2 separate regions of the Homo sapiens genome follow, and region 2 is linked to region 1. A link means that fine-mapping ties the variant in region 1 to the expression of a gene that starts in the linked region. Tissue or cell type: whole blood. Region 1 holds a variant in brackets; the other region holds the start of a gene. All regions are shown on one strand. Distances are from middle to middle. Region 1 overlaps MAP2K4 (mitogen-activated protein kinase kinase 4). Region 2 holds the start of MAP2K4 (mitogen-activated protein kinase kinase 4).

Region 1 (8,340 bases):
TCTTGTTAAAGCCTTCAACAGAATATTCTACTCAGGTTTAAACATAAACAATGTAGTTAAAGCCAATTTTCCCCACTCTTTAATTGTATGGACAGGGACAGGCTTACACAGAAAACTTCTGTGCTTTCATTAAAATTTCAAATTTTGCCAAAATAGAAAAAAAAATAGGAAATGTGTAGAAAACCATTCTTACTAACAATGAAAATAGATGACAGTAATCTTAAGAGACTACATAAACTTCTTAAATTAGCCAAAAAAAAAAAAAAAAAAAGGAAAAAGACAAAAATACATAAAGTAAATCCCATGCCTCAAGACCCCGTACAAATGCCACCTTCTCAGTGAGGCCTACTTTAACTGATGCAAAGCGCAAGTCATCCCATCAGGCACTCCCTTATCCTGCTCTGTTCTGTAAAGCCTTCATCATCCTCTAATATAAAGTGTAATTTACTTATTTATTATGTTTGTCTCATATATTCCCTACTAGAATGTAACCTCTGCCAGAACAAAGACTCAATAAATACTTGTTAAATGACTGGATGCTGGCTATAATTAAACTGAATCATTCAAACATTTCTTGCATTATAGATTGTTTTAAACCAATTTGAAAGCAATTTGACAATAAAACAGAAATAAATGTGTTGATACCATTTTATAGAATCATCCTATGACTGGGAATGTAACTTAAATGTTCCATAAATTACAAAAAGAAAAAACAAAACAAAACTAGAAACCGAGGAACTATCTCACAAAAGGGAATACAACAACATTAAAGAGATTATCTAAAATCAATTTTTTTGAAAATGAATACAGTTCATGAGAGAGATGCATGAGTCATGAAAAAATAAAAAATAAAAGTAGATACCATGATTATAACTGTAAAAGTACAGGATACACAGATGAACAAGAACTACAAAGTACCTTACAAAAATGAAAATACTATCAAAATGATTTTTAAAAAATTATACAGTTCTGTATGTTGTTACTTATTTATAAATACAGCTGTATCATCAAAGATTTTCTACCCATTAATCTCCTATCCTTCGATTATATAATAATTATATAATCAATCCTATCCTTGGATTATATAGGAGATTAATGCCTGTTAAAAGTAAAATTACTTGCCCAGAACAATACACTACCCATGAATAGAATCCACTGTCCCTAATGTGTTTCTTCTATCAACGTTTGCCATGCACTCTTACAAAAGGACCACTTTCTAGAACATTCACAGATACATGGCTATACATAATGTTTTTGTAAAGCATATTTGACGTAGTAAATTTTACTTATTATTTCTGCATTTAAATCTTTCTTCTCTCTGTAAATCTCTTTTTCTTTAGAGTGATCTATGAGAATGGCTATCATGAAAGATCGAGTAACACCCTCCACCCAAAACAGACACAGCTTTATTTTAGAGACACTATCTAAATAGGTTTACTAAAAAATCTTATTAGAGACATACAGCACATTTACTTCATCCACTTATAAAAACAGTAGAAAGAAACAACCTCAATAATATAGCAAAGCGGAAAAAAAAATGACATTAGGAGTCTGAAAAGCCTGACATTATCCAAGCTCTCCTACTTTCTACTTATATAAGCTTGGGCCTCCTCGCATCCTCAGCTATGAAATGAGACTGCCCCACCATCCTCAGTGGACTGTGATAAAGGGCAAATGAGTTAACATATGCAAAGCACAAACTAAAGTGCCTGGCAGGTGCTAAAAACTATAGTTACCAAATGGAAGGGAGAAGGAAGGGAAATGTGGGCAAATAAAAGAGAAAGATGGACATGGGAGTGGGAGAATAAAGGTAACAAGTAAACCGAGAACTGAAGATGAGAAGGGGGGACAGAAAAGAGCAATGAGATAGAGAGGTCTTTGTGATTTTTAAGGAACATAACCTAATGTAACCTTCTTATCTCTCTGACAGTTCCTTTTGGTCATACAAACAACACAATGGCAATGAGCTGCATTTAAAAAATGAAATGCTCTGAGCTGCCTGAAAAAGGTAGTGACAGCAGCATGACTGTCATGCTCAAGCAGAAAACAGGATGACCACAGGTCTGAAATGCAGAAGAAGTGAATAAATGTGGGTTTATTGGGGGAAAAAAAGCTGGAGAATGATGAACAACTCAACTACTAAGGTAACATAAGGAAGGGTTCCTAAAGATCCGTATATAACCAATAACATATACCAATAACTAATTCGAAAATAAAAAGATATCATTCTCAATAAAAATATAAACTAAGTCACCAGGAAATGTATCTAATAAAATAGGCAGAACCTTTATGAAAACAAATATAAAATGTTACTAAAGGACATAACAATAACCTGAACAAATGGAGTAGCAGACCATGATTACAAATGTGAAGATTCAAGATGAGAAGCACGTCAAATTCTCCCAAATTAATCTAAGAATTCAGTTAAATTCTAATCAAAATTTTCAAGGACCTGAACAAGCTGACCCTAAAGCTTATATTAAAGTAGAGCCAAGAATAACTAAGATAATTTTAAAGAAGAGATACTGACCTACTACACAAAGACTTTTTATGAAGCAATCACAAATAAAAGATAAATACACCAAAGAAACAGATGCAAAAGTTCATGCACAGACAGAAATCTGATATATGACAGAAGTTAACAAAGCAGATCATAGCAAAAGAATGCATTATTCAATGAATGCTGCTGGGACAACTGGCCTTCCATATAGAAAAACATTAAATTCTGACATTAAATCATTCACAAATATATATACAAAAACTCCCAAATGGATTTTGCAAAAAGCAAAAGTTTAAAACTTTTTTTCTAAGAGTTCTCCATGACTTTTATATAGGAAAAAAATTTTTCCCAAGAACACACATAAAAACAACAAATCACAAAGGATAAGACCTGTTAAATTTAACCCCATAATAATGAACACTTGTGTATAAACAAGGACAACATACCAAAAGTTTAAAAATAAGAGACAAAAACATCTATTTGGATGTAAAGAAACAAAAGATCAGTATCCTGAATAATAAAGAGTTATGCTAAACTAATTAGGGAAAGACCAAACTCAGTAGAATTATATCAAAGGCAATTTTTTTTTAAAAAAAGCCTAAATACATGTAAAAAATTCTGTATCTCACCAATCAAGGAAATGCAATTTTAAAAGTGAGATACCATTTCAAACTGCCAAAAATTAAACGTTTATTATCAAATGTTAGTACACACCAGGTAAAAGGAGATCTGTGACAGTAAATGCTGATGGCATACTAAATAACCATTCCCCCTTTCCTCTGTACAATGTATGTGGCTAAAATCTACATTTCCCAGTCTTTAAAGTATAGAAAGGCAGCCAAAGAGGTATCAACACAAAACCACTGGTTTGTGACTCCAGGAAAATCCTTTTAGTTCTTCCCTTTTCTTTTCCTTCGTGTGGACATGATAGCTGAACTCTAGGAGCCAATGTGGATCATGAGGTAACCTTAACAACTGAAACTATAAAGTAAGCAAGCTACTAACAGTCAGGAATGGCTGATACCAAATACAATTATTGATATAGAAATTTTGGTGGAAATTTAAGTCGGTACTCCAGTTGGAGACATTTGTATCATTAAATTTAGTAACTGTATTTCCAGGGACATATGCTAAATAATCTGTAACCTAAGTTGTCAAAGAGACATGCAAAACAATTCTTCATTTTTGTGCTGTTTATAATTATAAAAAAATGAGAAGCAATCTACATTATGATTATTTCTAAAAAAATAAAATAAAAAGGTGTATTTAATCATTAGAATACTACAGTTAAAATAAATTAACTAAATCTGTATATTACGAATCTATATTTACATAAATCTTGAAAACTATGTTGAATAAAACTATGTTGAATAAAATGTACAATAAAGAACGCATATAGGATTCCATTTACTTAAATGTGAAAATACATAAAGCGATATTATGTAAAATGTAGGGGAAAATGCACATATGGATGACCTAAACAAACAAGTTAAAGGAAACACTCAGGGTAGTGATGAGATCTGGAAAGGGAAATGTGATGAGGGCTTTAATTCTATTTATAATATTTGAAGACATATAAAGAGTAAATATGCCAATATAGGATTTGGGTAGCTGTTTCTCCTCTGTAATTTAGTCTATGTTTAAAAAATTTCACAGTTTAAAAGGAACATGGACCACCTTAAGAAACAAA[C/T]AAAAAAAGCAAATTAAGCAAAAATAAGTAAAAGGAAGAAACCACAATCAGAACGAACACCGCTCCCCGTCAAAAAAAATAATAATAGAAAAGCAATACAGAAAATCATGTAACGGAGGCCAGACGCCATGGCTCACACCTGTAATTCCAATGCTTTAGGGGGCCAAGGTGGGAGGATGGCTTGAGGCCAGGAGTTTGAGACTAGCCTGGTCAACAAAGTGAGACCCCACCTCCAAAAAAAAAAAAAAAAATTCAATTAGCAGGGTGGTGGTAGTGCATGCCTGTAGTCCCAGCTACTCAGGAGACTGATGTGGGAAGATCCCTTGAGCCCAGGAGTTCAAGGTTGGGTTGAGCTAGGATGATGCCACTGCACTCCAGCCTGGGCCACAGAGCAAGACCCTGACTTTTTTTTTTTTTTTTTTTTAAAGATAAGAAAAGAAAAGAAAATCATTTAACTGAGAGCTAGCTGGTTCATCGAGATCATCAATAACATTGATAAACCTCTAGCTGGACTAATTGGGAAGAAAAAAAGAAGACATAAATTACCAGTATCAGAAACAAGTGGGAGGGAGGGGGAGACAGGGAAGACAGAAGTAACACACTACAGACTCTACCAATATTAAAATAATAAAAAAGAAATATTATGAATAATTTTATTCCAATAAATTTGATAATTTAGATGAAAGGGATAAATTTCTTCAAAGAAACAAATACCAAAGATCACTCGACAAGAAATACGTAACTTGAATAGAACTATATCTTTGAAAGAAGCTGGATATTCAGTCAAAAATATTCTCACAAAGAAATTGCCAAGTTCAAGTGGCTTCATTGGTAAATTCCATCAAATACTTACAGAAAAAATAATACCAATTCTATATAAATTCTTCCAGAAAATTCAGGAAGAAGAAATACTTCCCAACTCATCCTATGAGGCTAGCATTACAATGATGCAAGTCAGACAAAAATAAGAAAAGAAAACTATACATCAATGTCTCTCATAGATACAAAAATTTTAAATGAATTTTAGCAAATTAGCTAAATTTTAGTAATTTAACAAATTGAATCCAATGATAGATAAAAAAGATAAAACATCCTAACCAACTGGATTTCTCCCAGAAATAAAAGCTATGTTTAATATCTGAGATCAATTCATATAACTCACCATTATTAAAACAACAAACAAACCATACATCTCAAAAACATCTCAAGGATCTGGAAAAAGAATTTGACAAAAATCTAACATCCATTCCTGACAAAATCTCTCAGCAAACTAGGAGTAAAAAGAAACTTCCTTAACCTGATTAAAAATATATATATATGAAAAGTCCACAGCTAATATCATATTTAATGAAGGAAACATGAATGCTTTCCCTCTAGGATCAGGAAAAAAAACAAGGATGTCTACTCTCACTGTATCTACTCAACAGCATACTGAAGGTTCCAGCCAGTGCAATAAGGCAAGACAAAAATAAATAAAGGAACTAATTGGGAAAGAAAGGAGTAACTCTCTTTATTCACAGACAAAATGATGATCTATGTAGTAAATCTGAAGGCAGGTAAAAAAAGCTACTGGAATTTGAGTTTAGCAAGGTTGCTGCACACAAGATCAATATAAAAAAATCAAATGATATTTGTGCATTTAGTCACATGAGAAAATTAAATTTAAAAATACGTATTAGCATTAAAAATATTATACACTTAAGGGCAACTCTAGCAAAAGCATGAAAGACTTATACAGCGAAAACTATAAAATATTGCTGAGAAAAATTAAAGAAGATGTAAAATAATAAAGTGAGATGCCACAAAAAAGGGTCAACAGACTTAATACTGTTAAGATATCAATGCTCCCCCAGTAGACCTACAAATTAGAAAAATCCCAATAAAAATTTCAGCAGGTTGTTTTTTTGTTGTTGGTTTTTTTCGGGTTTTTTGGTAGAAATCGACAAGTGGATTCTAAAATCCACATGAAAATAGAAAGGATATGAAAGAGCCGAAACAACTTTTAAAAGAACAAAGTTTAAGGACCAACACTCTCAAATCTGAAGACTTTCTATAAAGCTGGAGTAGTCCAAGACCATGTGAGATCAGTGCAAAGACAGAAAAACAACAGATCAATGGAACAGAGCAGATACTCCAGAAATAGACACACATCTGTATGGACAACTGATATCTGATAAAGGTGCAAAGGATATCCACATGCAAAAAAAAATCATCAATATATAACTCTCGATATATATAAAAACTAACTCCAAATGGATAAGTATAAATGTGATACCTAAAACTATAAAACTGCTAGGAGAATACATAAGAGATAATCTTAAGTGAGCTTGAGTTAGACAAGAGCTCTTATACACAACATCAAAAGCACAATACACAAATTTAAAAATTGGCCTATATCAACATTAAAAACTTTTGCTCTCCAAAAACACTGTGAAGAATAGATATATATAAAGATAAGCGCAGACAGGAGACAGTATCTGCAAATCATAGGTCTGATAATAAACTTGTATTCAAAACACATTTTTAAAAACCTCCCAAAACCGAATAACAAAAAAACCCAATTTAAATAAAAATGTACAACAGATTTTAACAGGAACTTCATCAAAGATATACGGTTGGTAAATAAGCACATGAAAAGACATTCAACACTGTTAGTCATTAGAAACATGCAAATTAAAAATACAGAGATTCCACCACACATTTACTAGAACGGCTAAAGATTAACACAACACATCACACTAAGTGCTGGAATAGACATGGAAGAAGCTGAACTCTCAAAAACTACTGGTGAAAGTATAAAATGGTACAACTACCTTAGAAAAAAGTTTGTCCATTTTTTAAAAAGTTAAACATACACCTACCATATGATCCAGCCATTCCACCCCCATGTAATTACCCCAGGAAAATAAAAGCTTATGTACAAACAATTGTACATAAATGCTCAAAGCAACTTTATTAGTAACAGACAAAAACTGAAAACAATCCAAATGGCCATCAACAGGTAAATGAGTAACAAACTGATAGATCTGCATAATGGAACATTACAGATAGTACTTGGCAATACAAAGAAATAAATGACTGATAAATGCAAGATAATTATACTGAATGAAAGACGACAAACTGAAAAAGAGAAGTACATACTGTAAGATTCCGTTTACATAAAATCTAGAAAAATACAAATTAATCTATAATGGCATAAAGCAGGTCAGTGGTTATCTGAGAATGGGGACAGCAGAGAGGTGGCAGGTATTACCTACGTGGTGTAAGGAAACTCGTAAGTGATGGGCATATTCATTACCTTGATTTTGGTGATAATTCTACAGGTGTATACATTTGTTCAAACATATCAAACTGTACACTTTACATGTGGGAAGTTTATCAGATGTCAATTTTACCTCCATAAGCTGCATTTAAAACTTGCAAGGAGAAAGAAGAGGGAAAGGAGAAGAGGGGTGGAAGTAAGGATAAAAAAGGGGGAGGTAACTTGCTTCAGCCAGCATCACTGCCTTCTATAATCTGATGAACTTCTACATTCACAAGTTACTCAGAACAGTGCTTTCTGCACTAGAATTTATTGCCCAACCTCAAAAGATGTTTAAAATAAGAGTTTACCTGCTATGAAATTCTCAAATTTTATGTATTAGAAAAATTTTTAAGTGATACTAGGTTTCAGCACTGTTAAGATAAATGGTAGGTCTTTTTTGTAAAATATAGGCTAAAAGTTACTTCCATTATTCAATTATTATCAAGCTCTTTTTTCCACCTACCTACAAAGCCTGAAAATGACTTTTAGGAACCTGTGCAACTGAGTGACCTAATAACTTATCTAAACCAAATCCAAGCTGTACTTTGGACTTTTCTTTTTGAGGTTGGTTCCATCCTAGAAAGAAGTATGCATGGTTGAAGATAGTGGCAACATAGAAGTTACCAACTTCAGTATTAAGGATTATTCACTGCTTTGAATAAGTGACGGAACTTTCAGAAGCTCAATATTACCCAACAGCAAGATTAATCTCTAATTAGTGGAACTACCATTTGATCCAGCAATCCTACTACTGGGTATCTACCCAAAGAAAAATAAATCATTATATCAAAAAGGTATCTGCACTGGTATGCTTATGGCAGCACTATGTATAATAGCAAAGTCACA
Region 2 (8,327 bases), 82 kb after region 1:
ACTATTTCTTGTAACAAGTATTTTACAAATGGCTCAATGTTTTTCTGAATCAATTATAGATTCTATTCTAACCATTTTAAGAAAACATCTATTGAAAACTGACATTTCTCAGCTAAGCGATCTTTGAAATCTATTACATTTTAAGTGATTAGTAGCTACAGCAGGCAAATAATCATGTCTAATAACAATCTGTATATACTTATAGATATTCTATAATTTTCAAAGCACTTTCACATGCATTAAGAATGTGATTCTTACAATGGCCCTACAGGTTAGGCATTATCCCTATTTTAACAGATGAGAAATTTCTGAACAGAGAGTTGAGAAAAGTTAGGGAATTTCCCTAAAATCTCAGTGTTTGTAAACAGCAGAGCAGTTACCTTAACCATGGTTTTCTGAGTCTAAGTCCAGTGCTCTTTACACTTCAACATCCTTTTGTTTCTTAAACATTACTACATGCTATGGGAACGCTAGCTGCTACAGCTACTACTGGAAAAGGAATCATCCTGCCTATGCAATTTCATTATAGAAGCTGTTGAATTCTCAACTGGCAAGCTCTATTAATCAGAATATGCTATTCTCTAACATGCCAACCATACTATCTAGTACTATTTGCTATACATATCTAAGATTAATTACCTGGTATAACGGGATCTTCTCTTTACAGGATTCACACTAACCCAGCTAAAGTCACGAGGCTTTAGATTTGCCACAAGGGAAAGCCCTAGCCATGGCTAGGAAGGTTCTTGAATGCTACAAGTCAATTCCGTACTTTAGGTTGGCTAAAATTTCTTGGACTAAAGAATAATACTTTTCCACAGAATGAGGCCCTAATATGCAAGAAATTTTCCTATTAAATCTATCTACATTAACAAATTATTGATGAAACATTAAGAATAAAAACATTTCTCAGAGTAGTTAATTTGAGTATTGTTTCCTCTCTCAAATGCAAACTCATCCTAATGCCAAATATACTTTCATAAAACCACTTACCTAACTTGGCAAACAGATCTACATTTTGTTAGCTTTAGTCATCAAAGAACCAAAGCCTAAGAACTACTCAACGTATAAAGGTTGGGTGTGTTTGTGAATGAACATGAAAAAAAAATGAGTCAGAATGAGTGAAGACACTCAAATCTTTTGAGTAATAACAAAATTAGCAGCTATTCCCTATTATCTGAGGGACAGTGGCAAAAATGGCCAGATTAGAAGCCATAACTGTTAGCATAAACATGCAACCAAAGCTACGTCTGTTGATTACTCTTATAATCAAATTCACTATAAATCCCATTCCAACCATCTACCCATCCCCTATGAAAAAAATGAGTAGAGCAAATTGATAGCTAGACTTCTGTTTCATATCGTTCACATTGTAATTCATTTGAGAGTCCTCAGATCCAGAAAAAAACAGATCCGGAGTTTGAAGTAGAATAAAATCTCATCTAGGATACTCTGAAAGGACTGCTCAATAATGAAAAGTGGGGAAATCAACAGGTTAGAGAGAACAGTGGGACCTAGTAATATGAACTAAAGAAATTGTGTGGTAAATAATGAGAGGTTAGGGACTCATTTACCAATAGTAAAAGGGACCATTAATGAGACCATAACAATATTGTCGCTACTAACAATGATGGCTAATGTGTATTGCATCCTTACTACATGTCAGGTCCCAGGCTTACATGCATTCTCAAAGCCACCGGGGAGGTAAGCGTTATTCCCACTTTCCAAGTGAGAAACTGAGGCTTCGAAAGGCCAAGTTCATTGCCCCTGGTCACAAAACGCATATCTGAATCCTGGCCAAGAGATTCAAACCCAGAACTCCAGAGCTCTGGTTCTTAAGCAGTATATTAAGAAAGCAATATTGGCCAGCCTGGACCACTCTTGGGCCATAAACATGAAGCCATGAAAAAGTATTCAAGGTTATCCAGTGCCCACCACAGTGCTTACCACATAAGAGGATGTCCAATGTCTACTGCATGAAACATTCCTTATGTTCCACAACTGAATCCTGCTGTTTCAGAGAGCATGGTCATTAACAACTCCCAGAAAGGAAGTTTTTTGAGTGGCAAGTATAATTAGATTGGGGGAGAAGGAATGGAAGTACATCAAACATCTTCTAAGGCCCACTCTGTGAAGTCTGATCTAAAGCAAAAGAAGACCCTTGGCAGATGAAGTACAGTATGGGAGGTGTGACTCCCATACAATTGGATGGGAATCTTTCTTTTTGGGTTCTTATAAGATTTCCTCTTCAAGGGCCTCACAATTAAGATACAGAACAAAACAAACCAAAAAGAAGGATCCTAAATTGCTGCTTAAGTTCAAGCTTTATAACAGACTGTTCTAGACAACATCCTGAGAATATCAAGCACTTCATTCTGACTAATGAAAAAAGTTTCAAGAACAAGATATAACACATTCCTGAATCAATCAAGACTAGACACAATATTGATAAAAAAGAAAATTCGGCAATAATTCATAGAGAGGTCTTAGGTCCTTTTTCCTTCTAAAATGGGTTCTGCTTATTAGAAAGTTTAGTTAACTGGGTATCAACATACAAGGGCTGAGGAGAACGGACAGCATCAGAAAAAGTCCTAACCACTGCCTTAGGAGTTCCTAGAACACTCCAAGCTCTTCCCTGCTTTGGAACCTTCATACACACAGTTCCTCTGCCTAGAACCGTCTTCAGGTAAAAGAGGGTTAGCTTTCCAGACAAGCCTTCTCTGACCATCTTATCAAGCGGACTGCCCTCTATTATCTTCTATCACAAAACCCAGCTTGTTACCTTTATTACTTTTCCAACTAGTAATTTTTCATGTTTAGCTAAATAGCCTTCCCTCCCCCATCTTCACAGGGGGATAACCTCCATGAGGACAGTTAGAGATGTTCAATTCTCTATAAACTCAGCATGAGCGTTTTATGCAGATGCTCAATAAATATTTTTTGAACCAAAAAAACACACTGTATCCAGCTATTTCAAACTGTCAGCCTCCCCACCAATAAAACAAACAAACAAATCACCTTGTTTTTATAAGCTTTGTAAGTCACCCATCTGGAACAAGAAATACAATCCTAAATTGTCATTTTGCCATTTCATTTCGCCCCAACCACCACCACCTAAATTGTAAAGCTGTACAGTCAGGAAGTCAATCTTATACTTCATCAGTATAATGTGCTGTGCAACACAGTGGGCATCCAATAACTAATTCAATTTGAATGAATTATCTGAGGGCCTGCACAGAAAGTGTCCTCTAAGCTCTGACATCATCCTGTCTATATATCTATCACTGGTTTTTATGTATATTAAAATTATTTCATGGGGAGGGTGACAGGGATGTAAAGATAAATAAAATCCTGTCTCTTCTTTCTGAATTATGGCATGCTCTATAAACATGAACTATTCAATAAATGTCTGTTGAACCTAACTAAATGCTAGAAGCCCTTTAAGAGGAATGGAATCAAAAAGTAACCATGGTCACACTGACTACCAAGGGTACCCCAACCCTTATTCTGTTAATAATTCAACACAAGCAGTTTGCTAAAGTTGTCAAGAGAGTTCTGAGATTCCCTGTTTTAAAAATAGCATTACTACTCAAAATTCCCCAGTAAATTTAAGGAAATGGTCCCTAACAGGCTCGGGCCTGGCCTGGTATTTTCACAACACCCCCTGTCAAAAGCCATACACAGCTAATAAGCATTCCCAGTGGGGAAAGTCATTAATTAGCAGAGCTGCCTCAAATGTCCAGACACTACAGTATCACTTTGACCCCTGTCTATTTCCTGTATCTCTCCATTTAAACCAAATTAAGTCTTCTTTTTTTTTTTTTTTTTTTTTCTTCCTGCACGCAATGCTAACACAGAAATCCCTGGCCTGGAACAAAATGCCTCTCCCAGGCCAATGCAGCCTACCTACCTTACAGGTGGCACAGGCCTGGGCAACCCGCCCCCCACCCCCATCCCTTCCAGCGCACAGAAACCCTGCAAAAGTTTGAAAACGCAGGTTCCAAGAGGCCCCCGTAGCCCGAGGTCAGCTCGGTGGTCCGGCTCCAGCTGTGCCCGGCGACAGCCAAGATGGCCCTGAGCGGGGCCCACTGCGGCGGCGGGGCCGAGGGGCGCCGGCCGGGGCCGCTGTCTTCGCCGCCTACCTGAGCGGCGTCAGGGACCAGGGGGCAGGCCCGACGCCCCTCCCGCTCCGCCGCAGCCCCGAGCCGGCGCGTTCCCGGAAACGGGGGCCGGGCGGGCGCCAGGTAAGCGGCGGGGGCGATGGGGACGGCCGCGGGGGCGGTCCCGGACCAGGTGGGCCCTGCGGGCCTGCTGAGAGCCCGGTAGGGCCCAGGGGCCAAGCGCAGGCAGAGGCCGCGGCCGGGGCCTATGCGGGCCGGAGCCCGGATCCAAGCCGGGCCGGAGGCGGCCGGGAGCGGGGCGGGAAGCCGGGGAGGGAGAGAGGGAGAAGCCGGCGGCTGCCGTGGCTTCCTCAGCCGGGTCCGGGGGCGTCCGCTGGGGCAGGCCGCGACGACGCGGGTTGCCGCGCTAGGGGGCTGGGATCTCGGCGCGGCCGCGTTCCTTACCCTGCATGCTGCTGACGGCCGGGTGGCCTGGCGCCGGGGACCCTACGGGGCCGGGGGTGCCGCTGCCGCTGCCGCCCCCGGAGCCGCCGCCGCCGCTCGGGCTCGGAGCCGCCATTGTTGGGAGTGAAGAGCCGAGCGGCGCCGCGGCGGCTGCAATGCAGCAAGCTCGGCCTCTCGCACGGCCGAGGGGCGAGGCTTACCCCCGCCTTGGCCCCGCCTCCGACACGCCCCGGACACGCCTCCTGACACGCCCCCGCCAGAGCCCGACGCGCAGCCCGGGCCAGATGCTGAGCTGCAGAACCGCCCGGCTCTGGGTGCGCGACCTGTGAAGCAGACAGCTGTCTTGGACCAGGGCTGCGGGCCCGCGGGGCCTAAAGTGGTTTGCAGAATTAAAGGTGGGCCTGCATTTGTGCGGAAAGAAGGTACGCAGCTTTCATCATTCCCATGGAGGTCTGTGACTCCCAAAAGTCCACTTTGTTGGAATCTCAGAACCCCAAATCAGAATAGTAAAGCTGAAAAGGATCCCAGGGATCCCTTTCTCCTCCAGTCGCTAACACATCACTTCCAGAAGGGAGTTACCTAGAGCTATGGTTACAGTCTGGAACTCCTCTTAAGCCCAATACCCCAACCCTCTACACTTCTCTGAGGGGAAAGGGGAGTCCCAAGGGGAACTAACCAAAGTGCTGTCCATGGACCCATCCCAAAACTACTGAATTAGAGGTTACATTTTAATAATACCACCAGGTAATTTGTATGCCCATTAAATTTGAGAAGCATATATTTAAGCACTCGACACTTCCCAGCCTCCTGAAATATGCTATCTACATCACCATCTTCCCCTAAATGCACACTGGATTCCCTCTCCCAAATCCTTTACATCTTGTATAAGACGAGCCGTAGTCATTATTGTAAGTTACATAAAATGACAACCCCAAAAAACAATATGAGGTTTCTTCCATTGCTTTGCACAGAGACTTTTATTTTAGGAAGACAGTAGCTAAAAGAAGAAAAAGTTCTCTATGAGGCTACGATTTGTAAGCCAACCATAATGTACTCGAAATGGTAAGACATGGGTTTCTGGCCAGGCAGCCTTGCCTAAAATGGAATAGCCAGTTATCCTACTTCCCAAAGAATCTAAGCCATGGAGCTGGACATTTTCTCCCATTTAGAAGCATTGTGTGATCTACAGCTAGACTTCTTTCCCAAAACTTCTTCCACCCAGATGTTATTTGATGCTGAGAGTTCTTCACAGCATGTTGGAAATGTGTCCTGGGTCAAAATAGCCCTGCCTTCTTGTTCCAAACCCAATTTCATCCATCATCTTGATGGCTCAGATCCTAAAAGTGGCTAGCCGTAAACATCAAGTGGAGAGGCATTAAAGGCAAATTGAAGGTGAGAGCAGGTAGGTGTACTTCAGTGGAGAGCCCGCCAGAATTCTCCTCCATGGGCCTCGTTGGCTGCCCAATATCTTCAAGTCCAGGTCTTATAAACATGGCCAGATTCCCATCTGGAAATCAGTAGCCCACCCAGCTCTTGTTGCTCCTAGGGCATCTTAATTATGAGCCATCATAACTGGCCTTTAATAAGAATTTAATATATATTCTTTTAATAGAAATCCTAGAAGCAGCACTACAGATTAGGCAACTACTAGAAAATTAATTTAAACACACACACACACACACACACACACACACACACACACACACATCCAATATTATAAATAACATATATTAAAGAAGGCTGGGGATGTTGGCTCACACCTGTAATCCCAGCACTTTGGGAGGCCAAGGCGGGTGGATTACGTGAGGTCAGGAGTTAGTGACCAGCCTGGCCAACGTGGTGAAACCCTGTCTCTACTAAAAATACAGAAAAAAACAAAAATTAGCCGGTGTGGTGGCAGGTACCTATAATCCCAGCTACTAGGGAGGCTGAGGCAGGAGAATCGCTTGAACCTGGGAGGCAGAGGTTGCAGTGAGCCGAGATTGTGCCACTGCACTCCAGCCTGGGTGACAGAGCAAGACTCCATCTATTAAAAAAAATATGTATATATATAGTTATATTTATATATATATAGGAAAACCTTCAACCTAGCAAATTCATTAAGGGAAATTGGGAAACTGAATTAAAAGAGAAATACAATAAAAATATAACTAATCTTATTTTTAAGAATACCTAATTCTGAGTTTGTGATAAAACTGACATATACTTGCATTGCTGTTGGTATTGTAAACTAGTAAGAGCCAATAATTAGATGTGCATATGGCAAAAACAAGAAAGCACTTTGATTTGTTCCAACTGAGGAAGCTATGTATGAGCTTTTTAACTTTTTCTTATGCTCACATTTCTCTTACATATTTGTGTTTTATGATTTCTTATGGACTAAATTGTATTCTGCTCCCTCACCAAATTTACATGTTGGAGTCCTAACCCCCAGCATCTCAGAATGGGACTATATTTGGAAATAGGGTCTTTAAAGTAAAATGAGGTCATACGAGTGGGCCCTAATCCAATAGGACTGGTGTCTTTATAAAGAGATTAGGATGCAGACACACAGAGCTAGGAGAAGATGATCATCTACAAGCCACAGAGTGTGTCCTCAAAAGACACCAACTCTGCCTACACCTTGGACTTCCAGCCTCCATAACTGTGAGAAAATACATTTATGTTGTTTATTGGTTCTTTTGCTATGACATCCCTTAGCAAACTAATACACAGTTCAGAAAAATGAATTGCTTAAAAAAAGTTAACCTTTTTAGTAATAATGGTGGTAGCTGGCATAATCACTGGGGAGACGGGAAGGCAATTAAGCAATACATATGAATAACCAGCAAATTTACATTTATAAGATATCCTTGAGGAAATCCCCAAATGGGCCTGAAACTCCTGGCTCTGCCATGTAGTGATTTTATCTTCCCACTAGAGTAGATGAAAATAACAAATTAAGATGATTTCTAAGAGGAATGTATGGCAATATCAAAGTCCCCCATCCTGAAAGAGGCTGCAGAGAAAGAGTAACGTCTGTGTATTCCTTGCTTAGAGAACCTTTGTTGAGAAATCTAGCTTGCTTGTTTTTTATGATACATATGTCAATGGTTAGACTAAAAATACATTTTTTTTTTTTTTTGAGATGGTGTTTCGCTCTTGTTGCCCAGGCTGGAGTGCAATGGCGCGATCTCGGCTCACTGCAACCTCCGCTTCCTGGGCACAAGTGATTCTCCTGCCTCAGCCTCCCGAGTAGCTGGGATTACAGGCATGTGCCACCACACCTGGTTAATTTTTTACTTTTAGTAGAGACGGGGTTTCACCATATTGTTCAGGCTGGTCTCGAACTCCCGACCTTAGGTGATCTGCCTGCCTCAGCCTCCCAAAATGCTGGGATTACAAGGGTGAGCCACTGCACCCAGCCTCAAGAATACATTTTTCATTTCACATTCCAAATAAAGAAAAAGTAATTTACAACTGGATTTCACCTTAGGACCCCAATTTCAGCCTCTGGGAAAGAAACAAGGTCAGACACCTCTATTTGGATGGAACAGTCACCAGATATTCCATATAGCCTTAGCAATTGTCTTTGAGCAAAACGCCCACCCTCAAATTGCCAAGGGCTCAGGACCAGGCCACCCAGTGACGGATGTTGCCTCTTCAGGCAGAGAGCTGCAAGCTGTGCAGGTTTCTGGATGTCATTCGAGCACTGAATTTAATTGGAAATACAGGGCCTGTGAGAAACTTTGACCAGTTCATGCCATTAAAGAACCAAAGTTT

Evidence for each region.
Region 2: MAP2K4 starts here. The variant in region 1 is fine-mapped to the expression of MAP2K4 in whole blood (INTERVAL, PIP above 0.99).

The regions. Positions count from the first base shown.
Region 1 is chr17:12,099,314-12,107,653 of GRCh38, reverse strand. The region is part of intron 4 of MAP2K4 (mitogen-activated protein kinase kinase 4); the gene reads right to left. Among named protein-coding and RNA genes, the nearest start is that of MIR744, 22 kb to the right of the region's middle. The variant C/T (reference allele first, on the strand shown) is at 4,191.
Region 2 is chr17:12,017,240-12,025,566 of GRCh38, reverse strand. It overlaps MAP2K4 (mitogen-activated protein kinase kinase 4), which reads right to left and starts at 4,690. Exons shown (of 11, transcript NM_003010.4): 1 at 4,566-4,690. The coding sequence starts at 4,680. It also overlaps a transcript of ZNF18 not described here. RefSeq lists a silencer at 3,974-4,853 and an enhancer at 4,390-4,890.